Homo sapiens: one gene and its partners. The main gene of each other region encodes a partner of the protein of the gene in region 2 in a complex. Each region holds a gene or a part of one and is shown on either strand. Other genes may lie near its edges. The genes, in order: SUMO2, SENP1 and SUMO3.

Region 1 (3,743 bases), on a different chromosome or scaffold from region 2:
CAGGAAATTTAAAGGAAAAAAATGCCCATTTAAAGACTCCAGTCTGAGCTCGGGGGCTCACACTGTAATTCCAACACTTTAGGAGACCAAGGCAGATCATCTGAGGTCTGGAGTTCAAGATCAGCCTGGCCAATATGGTGAAACCCCGCCTCTACTGAAAATACAAAAATTAGCCGAGTGTGGTGGCATCCGCCTGTAATCCCAGCTATTCGGGAGGCTGAGGCAGGAGGATCGCTTGAACCTGGGAGGCGGAGTTTGCAGTGAGCCAAGATCGTGCCCTAGCACTCCAGCCTGGGTGACAGACCAGATTCAATATCAAAAACAACAACAACAACAACAAAACCGACCTAAAATGCCCCAACCTACACCCTTGAACTTCCTGGAATAGCTTTAAAAAAGCACCGCTTTTTAATTTCCTTTAATACTTACCCAAATCTGTAATTACTTACTGTCTTACTAAAAAACACACTTCAGGAGATATAGGAACCTAGACTGTTTTAGTTACACAGTCTATCCCTTGCACATAGTAGGTGCTGCTCAGTAAGTATCAGTGGCATAAAAGGGATGAAAAACAGTATATAACCATCATCTACTTAAAAACAAAGGCCAAGTATTGTGGCTCACGCCTGTAATCCTAGCACCTTGGGAGACTGAGGTGGAAGATCACCTGAGGTCAGGAGTTCGAGACCAGCCTGTCCAACATGGTGAAACCCCGTCTCTACTAAAAACACAAAAATTGGCTGAGCACAATGGCACACACCTGTAGTCCCAGCTACTCCAGCCGGAGGTTGAGGGGGGAAAATTGCATGAACCCGGGAGGTGGAGGTTGCAATGAGCCGAGATCGTGCCATTGCAAGAGCGAGACTCTTGTCTCAAAAAAAAAAAAAAATTAATTAATTAAATAAATAAAAATACAAAAAATTAGCCAGGCTAGGTGGCAGGCGCTGTAATCCCAGTTATTCAAGAGGCTGAGGCAGGAGAATTGCTTGAACCCAGGAGCAGAGGTTGCAGTGAGCTGAGATCATGCCACTGCACTCCAGCCTGGGCAACAGAGCAAGACTCCATCTCAAAAAAAAAGAAATTAAAAAATTTGCATGGTGGCCAGGTGCAGTGGCTCACGCCTATAATCCCAACATTTTGGAAGGCCAAGGCAGGTGGATTACCTGAGGTCAGGAGTTTCAGAGCAGCCAACCTGATCAACATGGTGAAGCCCCGTCTCTACTAAAAATACAAAATTAGCCAGGCGTGGTGGTGCATGCCTGTAATCCCAGCTACTTGTGAGGCTGAGGCAGGAGAATCACTGGAACCTGGGAGGCGGAGGTTCCAGTAAGCCTAGATTGCGCCATTGCATTCAGCCTCAGTAACAAGAGGAAAACTCCATCTTAAAAAAAAAAAAGAAAAGAAAAGCCAGGCGTAGTGCTTCATGCCTGTAATCCCAGCACTTTGGGAGGCCGAGGTGGCGAGACGGGTGGGTCACCTGAGCTCAGGAGTTCAAGACCAGCCTGGCCAACGTGGTAAAACCCCGTTTCTACGAAAAATAAATTAGCCGAGCACGGTGGTAGGTGCCTATAATCCCACCTACTCAGGAGGCTGAGGCAGGAGAATTGCTTGAACCCGGGAGGTGGAGGTTGCAGTGAGCCGAGATTATGTCACTACACTCCAGTCTGACCGACAAAGCGAGACTCCGTCTCAAAAAAAAAAAAAAAAAAAAAAAGAATCGCCCAGTGGCACAAGCCTATAGTCCCAACTACCTGGGAGCCTGAGGTGGGAGGACTGCTTGAGCCTGGGAGGCAGAGGATGCAGTGAGCCATGATCATAATCCTCCCACTGCACTTCAGCATGGGCAACAGGGCAAAAGCCTGTCTCAAAAAAAAAAAGGCAAAATTTTGCAATTGCAGAAAAGTTAAATAAGATATGCATAAGAATAGTGTTCAAGGCCAGGCACCAGTGGCTCACACCTGTAATCCCAGCACTTTGGGAGGCCGAAGCAGGCGGATCACGAGGTCAAGAGATCGAGATCATCCTGGCCAATATTGTGAAACCCCGTCTCTACAAAAAATACAAAAATTGGCTGGGCACGGTGGCACGCACCTGTAGTCCCAGCTACTTGGGAGGCTGAGGCAGGAGAATCGCTTGAACCCAGGAGGCAGAGGTTGCAGTGAGCCGAGATGGTGCCACTGCACTCCAGCCTGGGCAACAGTGCGAGACTCTCAAAAAAAAAAAAAAAAAAGAAAAGAATACTGTTCAAAACCACCAAACTGAAGCATGATTCTGTTTGTTTGTGGTTTTGAGACAGGGTCTCATTCTGTCACCCACACTGGAGTGCAGCGATGAGATCATGGCTCACTGCAGCCTAGACCTGCCAAGCTCAAGCAATCCTCCCACCTCTGTCACTGAAATAGCCTGGACTACAGGTATGTGCCACCACAACCACCTAATTTTTTTTTAAGAGATGAGGTCTGGGCCAGGCGCAGTGGCTCATGCCTGTAAACCCAGCACTTTGGGAGGCTGAGGCGGGTGGTTCACGAGGTCCTGTAATCCCAGTGACTTGGGAGGCTGAGGCAGAAGAATCGCTTAAAACTGGAAGGCGGAGGATGCAGTGAGCCGAGATTGCGCCACTGCACTCTAGCCTGGGCAATAAGAGCAAAACTCCACCTCAAAACAAAACAAAAAAACCAGATGAGGTCTTACTATGTTGTCCAGACTGGTCTTCCAGCCTTGGCCTCCCAAAGTGCTGGATTACCACGCCCAGCCTATGATTTTCTATTTTGTATGCAGTTTTGCTAAAGAAGTTCTCCAAAAGGATTACCTTTTAAAATTCCCCTGTATCCTGAAGGGGCACTAGTGTTCAAATATAGAAGATGCCAGTTTATAAATTATTTAACACAATTCATAAGTTCATGTAGGGTGATTTCAGCAAAATTCTTCAAATAAGAGTATATGGTATCTTGCTGGGCACAGTGGCTCACGCCTGTAATCCCAGCACTTTGGGAGGATGAGGCAGGTGGATCACCTGAGGTCAGGAGCTCAAGACCAGTCTGACCAATATGGTGAAACCCCATCTTGCTGACAATACAAAAATTAGCTGGGCGTGGTGGCGTGCGCCCGTAGTCCCACCTACTCGGGAGACTGAGACAGGAGAATCGCTTGGTCTCGGGAGGCAGAAGTTGCAGTGAGTCGAGATTGCACTACTGCACTCCATCCTGGACAACAGAGCGAGACTCTGTCTCAAAAAAAAAAAAAAAAAAGGTATCTTTATAAGGAACTACATACAAGAAGGTTTACATATCAATTATGAGCACAGTATTTTCTTATTACATTGTAAATACACTAGGCATAAAAATACTTCAAACATTCTAAAGTTTTTTTTTTTTTTTCCTTTGAAATGCTCTCGCTCTGTCACCCAGGCTAGAGTGCAGTGGTGTGATCTTGGCTCACTGCAGCCTCCACCTCCCAGGTTCAAGGGATTCTCAGCCTCAGCCTCCGGAGTAGGTGGGATTATGCGCGTGTAACACCACGCCCAGCTAATTTTTTTGGATTTTTAGTAGAAATGGGATTTTGCCATGGTGGCCAGGCTGATGTCAACTGCCACCTGCCTCAGTCTCCCAAAGTGCTGGGATTACAGATATGAGCCACTGCATCAGGCCTAAAGGAAGTTTTTATCTTCACTGATCTTTCAAGTATAAACTCAAACTCAATTTCCCAACTTACATAGGTTTAAGCCTTATTCTATTTTGAGCCTA
Region 2 (3,743 bases):
AACACAATAATGACAAGCTCATGGGATAAATTTTGTTCCCCCCTCAACTCTCAAGTCCTCCTTATCTGCCTGGCATCTATCACAACAAACCAGGTCAAAATCTTACCTGGAAAATACACGACTCAGTGATCAATATTTTATCAAAGTGAGAATGTGATAAACAAGGTCAGTTGACCCCTAAAATCCGTATTTACACTAGAAAGCCTCACATCCTGTATTTAGACTTCTTGTGAGAGAACCCATTCTCTGTCACTGGAGTATGATCAGGAGACAAGGGTACCTGTTCTCTGAGGAGTCCTGACTAACTGGCGAGACTGAATCACACACATGAAAAATTTCAGATGAAACTCGTCTTTATGCATGGCTGCCTCCTAGAAATAGAGACAGAGTTTAATCCAAACGAACAGAGCTGTGAAATAAGATGTCAGTGACTGACATGGACCAGCTACACTCATGACTACTTGGCCTTAGGACTTGACAATATAATATAAAAGTATCAGCACATGAGGCAATACAAATAATCTACTTTGATGTATTTGACAGGGGAGGAAACCCTGAACTCAGCAAGCTGCTGAGAGTATCAGAAAGGCTGGGGGCCTCCAGAAACTGCCCTTCTTTAAGTCTGAGCTCAGACTGTGCCTGTGGCTGTGATCTGGGTGTAAAGGACCTATTAAGGGGGCATTTCTCTAAGACTTCTACAGGGCCTGGGTCCAGAGGCCTGCCAAGCTGAGGTGCTTGACAAAAAGCCTGAATGAACAAACATATTTCTTCCCATTATGTTCTCTTAGAAAGTATGGCAGATTCCAGGTTAATCAATGTGTCCCAGGAACAACAAAGCCCTTCAAAGGTCACAGGTGATTCCTGGGTCCTTCTCTATCTCTACCCAGAAAAGCAGATCTCTAGTGGGCTCCCAAAAGCTTTCCTCACAGCTCTGCCTGTTTCAAATTCCTCCAGAGTTCTGGAAGGTTCTACATCTTGCCAGAGTCTAGCCTAATCCGTCCTCAAGTTGCTTGTTTGTTTGTTTGTTTGCTTGCTGAATGGTCAATCAAGTATGAGGTGGTGCAGAGTACAGGATTGCAAGTTAAGAAACTTGTTTCCTAGTCCTAGATGGGCCGTGCACTTAAAACCTTTGGGAAATCACTTCACTTCTCTGAACCTGGTAAGACTAAAGTATCTCCAATAACCTCTACAAGCACTAACGTTCTGTGATTCTCAATAAAACACGAGATAGCCTGAGATCGATTTAGATCTCAGGTCCCTATCTGTCGGGGGAAGCCACAGGTTTCCGCAGATTTAGGGCCACCGCGAAAAGCTGCCATGGAAACTGGAACGCAAGCAAGCAAAACTCGCCGGGCGGAACCAGAAGGCGGCGGGTAAGGGAGCAGAGGGAACAGAGAAAAGCATAGGACGAAGGGCTCACTAACAGTATTCCGAGTACGAGAAAGCGAAAAAGCCCAGACTGAAAAGGGTACTGAGAAATTACGACTAGTCTTAAATGCTCCCTTCGCTTCTCGGGCCTCGCCACACCGCGCAGGCGCCCCACTGGTCCTTAACTCTGTTCTTTGACCTCCTGCCCCAGCCCCCTCCTCTTCAGCCACCTAGCGACTCTTCCGGTGCTGTGAAGGCGGTTCCGGTTCGCGGCGGTTCCCGGGTTTTGCGTTCCGCGCCCGGCCGGAAACCCCTTCGCATGGCAGCCGGTTCCGGTTCGGTGAGTGGCGGCGGGAAGCTGGGGGAGGGGTGAGGATGGAGGGAGCCTGGTCCAGGAGACTGTGTCGGACCCGGTCAGCCGGCCCGGGCTGGACTGGGCGGAAGCGGGGAGCACTGTGGGGCCGGCGCCTTTTCCTCTGCCCCGCCCCCTGGGACCACCTCCCCTCCCCCCTGCTGTCCGGTGGCCGCGCTGTGGCCGCCGGTGGCCGTTAGGCTACCTGAGGCCGTTCCTTCTGGTCTCTCTCTCCTGGGCCGCGGAGAGACCGTCTCCCTGCCGTTACAGCAGGCCCCATCCCAGCGCCCAGCCGTACTTGGGGAAAGGCCGGTTGCGATTCCGGGGCTTTCCCGCCAGAGCTGGGTCTTCTCTGGGGAGAGCTGTTTTCACCGGGAAGCTCGGCTTTCTGTGGTACCGGCTTCATCTCCCGCCTTCCTTGAGACCCGAGTGATATTTCTTGACTACTTCTGCGTCTCACGTAAACATTTCTCCAACTCTCCTACTCTGTGGTATCTCCCTGAGATGTGATATCGCTAGTGCCACCATCAGAAAGAAACGTCTGGACCCTCCTGCTCAGGTTATGAAAATCCCCTTAACTGCCACAATTTGCTTACCTGGCTCATCGCCTCCTGGTAATTCCCTTGAACCGTCTCTTTCTTGGTGTACCCTAACGTGATCTCTGGATCTATGCCTCGTTTCTCTTTCCTTGAGCTTGGTGATTTCTGTTTATCGGTGCCTGTGCAGTATTTCCACTATCTTGTTAGCAGTAACTTGCTTCTTTATCACTTTCAAGTCAGCCTTGTTAAAGTCATTTTACTTCATATTTGGTACACTTATTATATTTGGAGTGGTGGTGATTCTTGTAATATTCATATAAAGCCTTTTATCTACTACCAACTATTTGACTGAGGGTCTTTGTTATAATTGGTTATTCTGGATGTATTAGATCTCATCATCTCCTAAATCTTTATTCTTCATAAAAATAATTTGTGTTAAGGACTCATGTTGAAATACAGATTACCCTGACTTTGAAATTACAGTTAAAGCGCAACTTTAAGCATCTCTATAAGCATGATCCCTTAACCTACTTCCAGTTTACACTCTACCACCCTTTATTTTTCCTCTCTAGTCCCTTTTAGGAAGGCTTATTCATTTTTAACTGACTTCAATTAATTATCCCAACTGCAAAGATGGTCTTCATGTCACTCATCTAATGAGTTGTCTAGAGGGAGTGGATGGGTACAAAAACAGGTTCTGCTACTTCTGGCTAAGGGAATGCAGTTGTTGACTTGCATTGCGGCTTTGGAACTCTTGTCCTTTTCTTCCCAACTTCTACATCTTCTATCAGTTGTACCAGCTCTACTGTCTTGCGGTACCTGTTTATGGATCTGGCTTTCCCTACTGGACAGTGAGCTGCTCAGTGGCAGGGACCCTTTCTTAATGCACGTAGTCGGTGCACAGTAAATGAATGTGTATGAAAGAATTTGAACACTTAGGGTTTACGGCGTTAGAGTGTTAAGGTATTTAAGGTGTTAGAGTGATTGGGAGAGATTACATGTAAAAATAGAAGGAAAGAACCTCAAACACATGACGATATAGTACAAACTATTGTACACATAATTGTTTTTCAGAACTTGGAAAAGGGTGATTTCACATGGTTGCTTTCACACCCTTCTTATATCATAAATTGTTCTAACCACATCTTGGTCCTGGATAAAGCTAACATTGCGTCTCTCTCTCTCTCTCTCTCCCTCCCTCCGCCCCCCCCCCCCCCCCCGTCTCTCTCTCTCTCTCTCTCTATATATATTTTTTTCTTCTTTTTTTAGACAGAGTCTCGCTCTGTCACCCAGGCTGGAGTGCAATGGCTTGGTCTTGTCTCACTGCAACCTCCGCCTCCCGGGTTCAAGCGATTCTCCTGCCTCAGCCTCCCGAGTAGCTGGGATTATGGGTGCCTGCCACCATACCTGGCTAATTTTTGTATTTTTCGTAGAGACAGGGTTTCACCATGTTAGCCAGGCCGGTCTTGAACTGCTGACCTCGT
Region 3 (3,743 bases), on a different chromosome or scaffold from region 2:
TCTTCTTTCCAGCACCACCGGGCCCCAGAGTCCACCTCTTCCCCTTCGTCAGAGCCCCAGAGGGCAGAGCTGCTCCCACATGGGCTCAGAGGGGACCCACCAGAAGCGGGGCCTGTGAGGTGGCAGCCACTCAGTCATTCTGGAATTAAACAAGTGTTTTCAACGGAACTGGAGCCTGAGATTGACCACATGGCAGAGCTAAGTGTAAATACTGCTGAGAAAATTAATATCATATGTATTTTATTACATTTACTCTTCATTAAGAGGAAGCCACCTACAAAAACATAAAGGACATTTATATTTGACCTAGTTTTAACAAGTATTTAAATATTCAAACAACCCCAGAGTGGGAGAACTTTGACTTCACTGGAGTCAAAATGTAAAAAGCAAAGGTCACCCCAAATGCCATCTGGATAGGGCAGGTTTCCCTGGAGTCTGACCACAGCAAGCAGAGTGCAGACTTCCATAGAGGCCGCGACCATGGTTCCTGACGGTTCCATCCCACTTCCCGCCAGTGTCTGGCACTGAGCCTCCACCCTCATCTGTAAAGGGAGGGTGGTCACCTCCAGGACCAGGCCAGTATCAGAGACAGCCTCTTTACAGAGCCTTCAGCTCTAGTCATCTTCCACTGGGATGTAACATAGAGGCCGACAGTGCACACCAAGGGCTTCGGAAAGGTTCTCTTTTTATGAACACTGGAGAATGCGACTACAGACCCTCCCGAGAAGGAATGGCCAGTGCACCTGAATGCAGGGTGCATACCCCAGGACTGAGACTGGAGGGAGGCACACCCCAGCATGGCAATGGGGGAGACTAAAGCCCACCCAAGGCTGGATAAGGAGGGGTGGGCGCGCATGGTGGGGGAGGCGCAATGCAGAGAAGTGGGCGCACACCGTGGGGCGTGATAGGGAGGGGTGGGCACACACTATAGGGGGCGTGATGGGGAGGGGTGGGCGCACATCGTGGAGGGGGTGATGGGGAGGGGTGGACGCACACTGGGGGTGTGATGGAAAGGGGGACGCGATGGATAGGGGTGGGCGCACACTGGGGGACGCGACGGGGAGGGGTGAGCACACACTGGGGGTGTGATGGAGAGGGCGACGCAATAGGGAGGGGTGGGCGCACACCAGGGACGCGATGATGGGGACGGGTGGGCGCACACCAGGTGGCATGATGGGGAGGAGTGGGTACACACCATGGGGGGCGTGATGGGGAGGCGTGGGCGTACACCGGGGGGCGCGATGGGGAGGGGTGGGCGCACACCGGGGGACGCGATGGAGGCGGTGGGTGCACACGGGGCGCGATGGGTGGGAGTAGGTGCACACTGAGGGCACGATTGGGGAGACACGAAGGAGAGGGGTGGGCGCACACTGGGGGACGCGATGGCCGGGACACGATGCGGAGAAGTGGGTGAATACCGGGGTCGCGATGGGCGCCCTGGAAGGACGGCAGTGCTGCTCACAGGGGCCAGGCCCCTCAGAGCGCGCCCCTTGGGGGTAACCCCAGACGCTTGTTCCCGAGCCGACTCCGTGCACTCGACACAGGATCCCGCACCCAGGGCGATGCCGGGGGAGAGGGCGACCCCAACCAGCAATGACTCAGGAGAGGAGCACGCAAAGACGCTTCGGGGACACTGCTGGGGCGGGATCCGAGGGCGCCGCGCTCTGCAGGAGCAGCAGCGCGGGGCCCGACACCGGGCGCTCAAGGAGGCGCTGGGCGCGCGCCTTCCCAGCTGGGGAGGAGACGGGCGTGGAGCGGAGGCGTGGCCAGGCCCGGAGGGGGCGGAGCTCGCGGCACAGCGCGCTTCGCGGGGGCAGAGGGGGCGCACCTTGGGCGGGCCCACTTAGGGGCGGGGCTCTAGAGGGCGGGGAGGGGCGGAGCCTGTCAGGGGCGGGACGCGGGGCGGAGTCGGGGTGGGGGCGGAGCCGGGCTGGGGGCGGGACGCCCGCGATAGACGCGCGTGCAGGCGGGGTCGCCGCGCTTACCTTGGGCTTCTCCTCGGACATGGCTGCGCGAGCGGCGCGGGGAGGCGGCGCGGGGGAAGCAGCGCGGAGCGGGCGAGTCACGCTCTCGGCCCCGCCGCTCTCCCGCCGCAACTGTGCGCGGGGCCGCGCTTTATCCCCCAAATCCCGGCGCACCCGTTGGCCGGCACGGGGGTCACGTGGCTGCGCGCGTTCACGAGGCGCGCTCCCCGGGGCGTCGGGCGCGCGCAGGCCGGGCCGCGGCTCTGGGCGGTTGGAGATGCGTCACGGGGCGGGTCCCGCGCGACCCCGTCGGGCGCGGAAGCCCTAGGGCGCTGTGGGGCGCGGGCCAGGAGCGTTTACGGGGAGCCCGGGCCCTGGGGACCCTTGCCCGCCTCCCCGCGTCGCCCGGGCCCCGACTCCTTTCCTGGGGGCCGCGTTCCTGGGGCGCCGGGAAGTGAGGCCGGGGCCGCCGCCCATGGCCGCAGGGACCTGGGGCGGAGGAGGGAGGACGCTGGGGGTGACGTTCCCTCTCAGGAGCCGCGGACAGAGCGGAGAAGGCGGCCCGCGGGGTCCCGTCCGCGGGGGCCGCGCGAATCGGGCCAGCACCCTAGACGATTGGGGGCGCCACCCGCCTCCCTGCCGCCGCGGTTTCCTGTCAGCCCCAGGCCGGGCTCCTTTGGCCAACGCTCCTACGGGGCTGCCCCGGGCCCTCCACACCCGTCCTCAAGAAGACCCGTTTTACCTGTGAAGAAACTGAGGCACTGGGAGGTCAAACCACCCCCAGGTCAGCGCTGGTGAGCGGCGCCGAGCTTGGCCAGGCCGCCACGTCGGCGAGCGCGGGCAAACCCAGGCTGGACGCCGCCAGTGCCGGCGGAACGGGGACCTCGTGGACGCGGGAAACGCGCTGGGCCGGCAGGACGGCCTCCCCGGACTTGCGGGCGCCATTCCTGGGGTGCCTGGCCCGCCCCGGCCTCCATGTCTGTGATCCCAGGGCCTCGGATGGAACGGACCTGAGGGCGGACACCCCTGCGTCCCTCAGGAGTGCCCGGGTGGTGCCAGCCGGGGCGTGGCGGAGGTCTCATCTGATGGTGAGCCCGGCCGAAGGCGGGGGAGGCCGCACTTCAGGCTCAGCTGGGAAATGGCAGGGCCTGGATTTGAACCTAAGCGTCTGAGCCGTTTCTGTCCTGCCTGGGAAAGGCTCAGCCAACTGAGCAACGTCGCAAAGCCATGGAGACAAGTCTTCATGGACCATAACTTCACAAACCGTCTTCTACTCAAAAATTCACTTTCTTGGCTAGAGCCCCCACTTAGGAGGGGGAAGGCTGCTGAAGTCTTTCGGGGAGAGGGTCTGAGAGTCAGCCCCAGTCCCAGGCAGGTCATAAGGTGTGGTCCCTTCCTTCTGGAACCTGGAGCCCAGGGCCTCAGCAGAGGATGTGGAGGTGGGTGGCCAGCTCAGACGGTCCTGGGAGGGGGCTCCGCAACCAGCCCCTTCCGAGGGGACGTGGCGCCTCAGAGCCCACAGATTGCTGGCCCTGGAAGTGCCCTAGGGCAGGCAGGGTTCAGAGAGTTATCGACTCCAAGACACCGTTAATCATAAAACAACACGACCGTAGGTAGCACAGACACACTAAACTCCGGCAGGCTGTGGATGACGGCAGCCCGCTTCAGTGTTGTGGAAGTGAGAAACACGCAGCTTAGAAATCATGAGACACAGAACCCAAATGTGTTACCGCTCGAAATTACGCCAGTTGCTGTGTCACGAAGTGATGCGTGACTACA

What was found.
Region 1: the proteins of SENP1 (region 2) and SUMO2 are in contact, whole or in part, in a crystal structure (PDB 2IYD), measured with the Homo sapiens proteins. Residues at the interface, in NP_001254523.1 of Homo sapiens: Asp441, Glu446, Phe448, Arg449, Leu450, Thr451, Lys455, Asp456, Trp465, Leu466, Asn467, Asp468, Glu469, Asn472, Asn494, Thr495, Phe496, Lys500, Arg511, Trp512, Lys514, His529, Gly531, Val532, His533, Trp534, Gly600, Ser601, Asp602, Cys603; in NP_008868.3 of Homo sapiens: Gly24, Gln25, Arg56, Arg59, Arg61, Phe62, Asp63, Gly64, Gln65, Pro66, Asn68, Asp71, Asp82, Asp85, Phe87, Gln88, Gln89, Gln90, Thr91, Gly92, Gly93.
Region 3: the proteins of SENP1 (region 2) and SUMO3 are in contact, whole or in part, in a crystal structure (PDB 6NNQ), measured with the Homo sapiens proteins. Residues at the interface, in NP_001254523.1 of Homo sapiens: Gln440, Asp441, Glu446, Arg449, Leu450, Thr451, Lys455, Trp465, Leu466, Asn467, Asp468, Glu469, Asn494, Thr495, Phe496, Lys500, Arg511, Trp512, Lys514, Lys515, His529, Gly531, Val532, His533, Trp534, Gln597, Gly600, Ser601, Asp602, Cys603; in NP_008867.2 of Homo sapiens: Gln24, Ser53, Arg55, Gln56, Arg58, Arg60, Asp62, Gly63, Pro65, Asn67, Thr69, Asp70, Gln74, Glu76, Asp84, Phe86, Gln87, Gln88, Gln89, Thr90, Gly91, Gly92.

The regions. Positions count from the first base shown.
Region 1 is NC_000017.11:75,176,298-75,180,040, forward strand, and holds part of SUMO2 (small ubiquitin-related modifier 2 isoform a precursor), read right to left. Parts: intron 1-3,743. UniProt on the Homo sapiens protein: Ubiquitin-like protein that can be covalently attached to proteins as a monomer or as a lysine-linked polymer.
Region 2 is NC_000012.12:48,103,993-48,107,735, reverse strand, and holds the start of SENP1 (sentrin-specific protease 1), read left to right. Parts: upstream 1-1,689; 5' UTR 1,690-1,708; exon of another isoform or gene 1,709-1,925; coding exon of another isoform or gene 1,926-2,126; exon of another isoform or gene 2,127-2,282; coding exon of another isoform or gene 2,283-2,334; exon of another isoform or gene 2,335-2,383; intron 2,384-3,743. Other genes in the region: PFKM (ATP-dependent 6-phosphofructokinase, muscle type), read right to left, coding at 281-371, 1,926-2,126. UniProt on the Homo sapiens protein: Protease that catalyzes two essential functions in the SUMO pathway.
Region 3 is NC_000021.9:44,815,963-44,819,705, forward strand, and holds the start of SUMO3 (small ubiquitin-related modifier 3 isoform 1 precursor), read right to left. Parts: upstream 2,101-3,743; 5' UTR 2,007-2,100; coding exon 1,986-2,006; intron 1-1,985. UniProt on the Homo sapiens protein: Ubiquitin-like protein which can be covalently attached to target lysines either as a monomer or as a lysine-linked polymer. Does not seem to be involved in protein degradation and may function as an antagonist of ubiquitin in the degradation process.